2 separate regions of the Homo sapiens genome follow, and region 2 is linked to region 1. The links come from fine-mapping of genetic effects on gene expression. A gene starts in region 1. The other region holds a variant in brackets. All regions are shown on one strand. Distances are between the middles of the regions. Region 1 holds the start of ZMYND11 (zinc finger MYND-type containing 11). Region 2 has its middle 37 kb from the start of TUBB8.

What was found. PIP is the estimated chance that this variant, and not a neighbour inherited with it, causes the effect.
Region 2: its variant is the best candidate, but not a certain one, in a credible set for the expression of ZMYND11 in whole blood (INTERVAL, PIP 0.66).

What each region holds. Positions count from the first base shown.
Region 1 is chr10:133,721-136,618 of GRCh38, forward strand. It overlaps ZMYND11 (zinc finger MYND-type containing 11), which reads left to right and starts at 1,735. Exons shown (of 15, transcript NM_001370100.5): 1 at 1,735-1,839. RefSeq lists silencers at 977-2,536, 984-1,162.
Region 2 is chr10:84,367-87,264 of GRCh38, forward strand. It overlaps the pseudogene IL9RP2. Among named protein-coding and RNA genes, the nearest start is that of TUBB8, 37 kb to the left of the region's middle. The variant G/A (reference allele first, on the strand shown) is at 1,687.

The sequences.
Region 1 (2,898 bases):
CATTCAAACCAGGCATGGCTTGCTTTTCTTCTGACACGTTTTAACCCCTCTACTAAATTTTTAGCGATATATATTTACTCTTAAAATGAATTACAATTATTCTGTGATGTTCTTTGAGATAATCAAAAACTCTCTGGGATGTATCAGATTGAGGGCTGTGAATAGCATGAAAGATTGTGTTTATTTGACTAGTGTATATCACAGACCTATTCAAGTACCACCCATTTCTAAATTCTAACAGTCTTAGAAACCAGCTGTAGAAGCAGATTGATATATTTTATCAGAATCCCCAAATTCCTACAACCGTCTCTTCCTAATGACTTTTCAGGTGGGGACACGTGCCAAGACGGCCAATAGATACCTGAAACCCGGGGTAGTGCTGAACCTTACTTACACTACGTTTTCTCCTATACACACCTGCCTATAATAAAGTTTAATTTAGAAGTCAGGCACAATGAGAGATTAACAACACTAATAATAAACCAGAACAATTATAACACTATACTGTAGTAAAAGTTATGAGAATGCGGTCTCCCTGAAAACACCTTGCTGTCCTGTACTCACCGAATTTCAGAGCAGAGGACTCTGACTGACAGGTGTTCCCCGACTCCCAGTGGCGAAAGGTCCTCAGGGAAAACAGGTGAACGCTATCAAAGTATGCTTATCTCCGAACCTTTCTTAAACCAGAGTCTTAAGGGATCGTCTCTGATTAGGTCTAGAATTCCTCTCCATAGAAGATAACCTACTTCTCGCGCAAATCTGCAGTGTTCTTGCAGGGCTGCTGATGGGTGGTCCTGTTCTTTTCGCGGTCCTGTTTGCGCAGAGATGAAACGGGGAACTTAGCGTATCCCTACCGCTCTTTTTGATGACAGGAGTAAAGGGCTGTTCAGACTACCTAAACAATGTTGTTAAGAGAAGCACTCGTACTTCTCAGACTTCGCTGTTCCGGACCCCGCGAGCCAGGGGCAGGCACCGGGTCCACCCGGGGCTGAGCTGCGGCGGCGCCTGACAATGCCCCCTCGCGCCCCGGCCTCGGCGCCCGCTCCCGGCTCCAGCGCGCCTGCACGTACGTAGCCTTCACGTGTGTGTGGATACGGAGTGCATGTGTGGAGACAGAGGAATATGCTCCAACAAATTTCGGATAGAGGCGCCGAAGACAGGACGTGGGGAAGGTAGGAGCCGCGTGCACGGCTCCGGCCCCGGGCGGGAGGCGGCCGCGAGCCGGGCCGGCCGCGCGCAAGTCCGGCGCCAGCCGCTAGAGCCCCCAGTGCGCGGCCCGGCCGCGGGGCGCCTCGACCCGACACAATAAACTCCGAGGGCGGGCGGGCCGAGGGGCCGGTGGGGCCGAGCGGCCGCCCCGCGCGCATCGCCATGTGAGCGGCTGCCGCGGCTTCGCGGGGACCCAACTTTCCCGGGCGGCGGCGCCCAACTTCCCGCCGCCCGCTCCGGCCCCGCAGGCCCGCGGCGCCAGGGGAAGACGCGAGTAAGTGCGGGCGGCGGTGCCCTCCCGGCCCTCACCCCGCACGCGGCGACCCGGCCGCCTAGCCTCCCTCGCTCAGGCGCGACCGCGGCGTTCTCTGAGGTGGAGTATTACAAACATGGCGCCCCTCGAGCCCGGAGCCCTTCGCGCGGAGCCGGCGGCGGGGTCCGGGCGGGGGGGAGCCGGGGAGGAGGGAGGAGGCCGGCAGGGAGGAGGAGGAGGCGGCCTGAGCGTCCCCCCCGCCCCCCGCGCCCGTCGCCGGCTCAGGCCCGAGAGGCGCCGGGCGGCGGGAAGGAGGCGGCACCGGAGGGGAGGGCCGGGCGCGGCGGCGGCGGCGGTGGAGGAGCCGGAGCATAATGGTGGGGAAAGCTCGGCGGCGGGGCGGCGGGGCGGGCGGGGGCGTCCGTGGAGATGGCGCGGCCCGCGCGGTGGAGCCTGCCTGGCCGCGGCCTCTGGGGCGGCGGCGGCACCAGTGGGTGCTGACGGTCGCTCGCCCGCTCGCGAAGAGCTCCGAGCTGCCGGGGAGCTTTGTGGATGGCGGGGCGGGCCGGGCCGGCGGGGCCTGCGAGGGCGGCGGCGGGGCCTGCGGAGGCTGCCGGCCCGCGCCCACTCGCCTTGGGCGGCCGCGGAAGAGGCCCCGGGATGAGGCCCCGGAGGACCGCGCGGGGCCTGCTCGGGCCGGGAAGCCGCGGAGTCGCGTGAGCACCGCCCGCCGGGCCCTGTGCCCCGCTTTCGGTCAGGCCTCCTGGGCCCGTGCGCAGTCCGGGCCGGCGGGGAACGCGGCTCCGGGCGTGTGGCGGGCGGAGAGGAAGCGTTTGTCGGCGCGGCACGTCGTGTGCTAGCCCGGGAGCGGCGGGCAGGGCTGGCCCCGAGGCCCGGGGCGGAGATTCGTCGGTCCCCCGGGGCTGTGAGCGACCCCGGCAGCGAGGCCGCCGCCTCAACAGGTCCTCGCGGACCTCCGGGACAGTCCTGTGGGGTCCGCCGCCCTCCTCCCACCCAGAGCTCCGGGGAGAAGCTGCTGAGGACGCGGCTGGGACGAGGGGGGGCGCCGGGACCCGGACTTTCACTTGCAGTCTCTCCTCGCGCTTTTCTCCCGAGCCGGGAGGAGGAGGAGCTGGCGATGTGTGCGCCGTGCCCGGTGTCTTTTGCAGAGTGACCGCCGTACCTGTTTTATTCGTGTGTACCAGTGCTCGTTGTGCAGTGCGGTGTCCTATGCGGTGGGTACGCAGTACCGGGGATTATATATGGTGTGTACTCTGTGTCATATGCAGTGTGCTCGAAGTACCCGGTGTCGTACCGGCTATCATACACGGTGTGTACATGTATCTTCCTCGCTTAGGCTGTGCACTCAGCCCCCGGTATTGTGTGCAGTAGGTGCCTGGTACCCTGCTGCCATATGAGCTGTGCGTGTGGTACTC
Region 2 (2,898 bases), 49 kb before region 1:
AGTGCACACGTGTGTGCACACATACATACATGCACACTCATGTGCACGCACTCACAGAGACACAGGCACACTCACCCTACTCACACACACACACAAAGCACACACAGGTGCATGTCAGCACGTGTGTGTTCACACACACACCTGGCTCCAGTTCCTCCCCTCCTCATCACTCCAAGTTGACATCTCCTTGTTTAGAGTGGGGAGTCTGCCCTGGACTGCTGCTCCCAGGAGAGAGGACCCCAGGGGAAGCCAGTCAAAGTGTTACCTCTCCTGCCTCTTGAAGCCCAGCTCATAGCTGAGAAGTGTGGTCATCAGCTCCAAGGCAGGACTGATGCTCCAGGTCAGGATGCTCTGCAAGTCAGAGAGCGGGTCCAGCTTCACTGGAACAGAGTGAATCTACCTAAGGCTGAAGCCCCATGGGTCTGGGTGTGTCAGTCAACACACCCAAGGGGTGGGGCATGGTCCAGGCCCTCTCAGACCAGGCACCTCACAGGGAGACTGGTCCAGAAAAGCCCCAGGCGGGACAGGACAGCAATGACTTCCTCTGGCCTCTGCAGCTAGACTAGGCGGTTTCTAAATCTTGTGTTCCCTTTCCTTCACAGTCTGCTGCTGGAAGTCCTTCCCAGCATCTTATTGGAGTCCTTCCTGGTATGGCTGAAGTGCATTTCACATAACTCTAGTGCCAGCCCCTGCCCCAAACTAGCAGCCCTGCATCTTTATTTTCTACAAAACCCTGCCCCCGCAGTAACCATGTGTGCCCTCCTCTCCCAGGGGCCAAGCCTGCCCCCAGCCCTGGATCTCACTTGGCAGGGACTGAGAACACTCGCTGGGCCACAGGGGTCACAGGCTGCAGGGCCCTGACCCCAGCCCCCAGGCAGCCAGGATGTTATTGGCGAGGGGCCCTGCCCCAGGTCTATAGCTGATACCGTGTCTCCAGGGCAGGTACTGCAGCTCCACCAGGCTGACCTGCTCCCTCCCAAACGTGCAGTGGTGGAAAGTGATGATGAAATTGTCGGACGGCAGGAGCACCACCTTGGGTGGAAGCACGACAGTGCACTCACTGCCCCACAAGATGCACTTATGTGTGCCACCAGGAGCCTGCTTGCTAGAAAGGGCAAGTGTCAGCACCACGGGGCTGTTACACTGTCGTGGTGTAGCTGCTGCCATCCTGGGGACCTCACCCTCATCCCTGTCCAGGTGGGCATGGCCCTCCACGCTCACCTAATGAAGAGGAGCCCGGGGCTGGAGCCCTGGCCCAGCTCTGGGGCAGACCAGTGGCAATCGATCCTGAGATTGTTGTTGGTGAGGCAGGTGAAGTTTGGCCCTTGGTCCTGGAGACAGTGACAGTTGGGAGCCCACCGTGAGTGCTTCAGGGCAGAGTTGAGTTGGGGGGTTGTGAAGGGATCTGACAGCTGACACCCTAGCAGGGCAGTCACCACTGAATGATCCCAGAATCTGCCCAGGGAAGCACTGGGAGGCCTGGGAAGTGGCGGGCTCTGACCCATGGTACACGGGCAAGTCAGACTTAGAGAGGCGTCAAGAGGGTGAAGGAAGGGAGACTAGGGTTGCTGCGGGGACTGAAGGTAGGAAGGTAAAGGTAGGGAGAATAGAGACTGAGGTCCAGGCTGACCCCTAGAGGACATGCCCCAGCACAGTTTGGGCCAAACCTTTCCCTAGGGTCTCAAC[G/A]TCGGACAAACCAGTCCCCCAAACATGCCCTAGTTCTCCACACACCTCATACAGACACTAGTGCCCAGCCCTCACCTCGTCCATCCCCCAAGACAGAGACTCCCGAGCAGACACAGGTGCAGATGCAGGTGCAGGCCAGGAACCAGGTGCTCATGTCTCGCCTCAGAGCCTCACTCTTCAAGGTCCAGCCTGCAAGGGGCTGGGCTGAGGGCCCTGTGCGAGCCATCCCTCTCTGGAGGGGTGCTCCCCATGAATTTCACCCCAGCAGATTGCTCAGCGGGTCTCCATCTGCACTCACACTGTGTCCTGTGAAAGACGCTGGGCACCACTGCCCAGGCTTTACCGATAAGGAACTGAAGCTTAGAAAGGCCACTCGACCCAGCTGCAGACTCATGGCTGCAGGGTGTAAGATGCACCCTCAAACTTAGATCTTGGACTCTTGCTTAGCTAAGTCTCCACGTCTGCCAAGAAGGTTCCTCTCTAGGACGGGCATCCTCTGCCAGCCCATCCCCTGTCCCTGGGCCCAGGCCTCATCCTGCAGGGGAGTCAGGATTGGGGGAACCACTCACTACCAACAACCACCACAGGTGCATTTTCTACTTTAATTCTCACAACAGCTTTGTAAGGGAGAAGCACTGTCCCCGTTCACAGGCAAGGAGCTGACTCCCAAGGAGGGAAGGAGGGGAAATGACTTGCCCAGGGTCACACAGACAACTTCTATGCATTCTTTTTTTTTTTTTTTTTTTTAGACAGAGTCTCCCTCTGTTGCCCAGGCTGGAGTGCAGTAGTGTGATCTTGGTTAACTGCAACCTCCAACTCCTGGGTTCAAGCGATTCTCCTGCCTCAGCCTCCTGAGTAGTTGGGATTATAGGCTCCTGCTGCCACAGCCAGCTAATTTTTTTGTATTTTTAGTAGAGATAGCATTTCACTATGTTGGCCAGGCTGGTTTCGAACTCCTGACCTCAAGTGATCCACCCCCTCCTTGGCCTCCCAAAGTGCTGGGATTACAGGCATGAGCCACTGCTCCTGGCCTCTATGCATTCTCTCTCCCTTTTGTCTTCTTAAATAAAGACCCATCCCAGGATTTTACCCCAGGAAGGTGGACAAGAGTGGCAGCAAGGTATCCATGCAACAGATGGCACTTCCTTAACTCTGTTGCACCCCTGTTCCAAGGTGCCTCCAAAGGACAGCACCACCAGAAGGGCAAAGCCC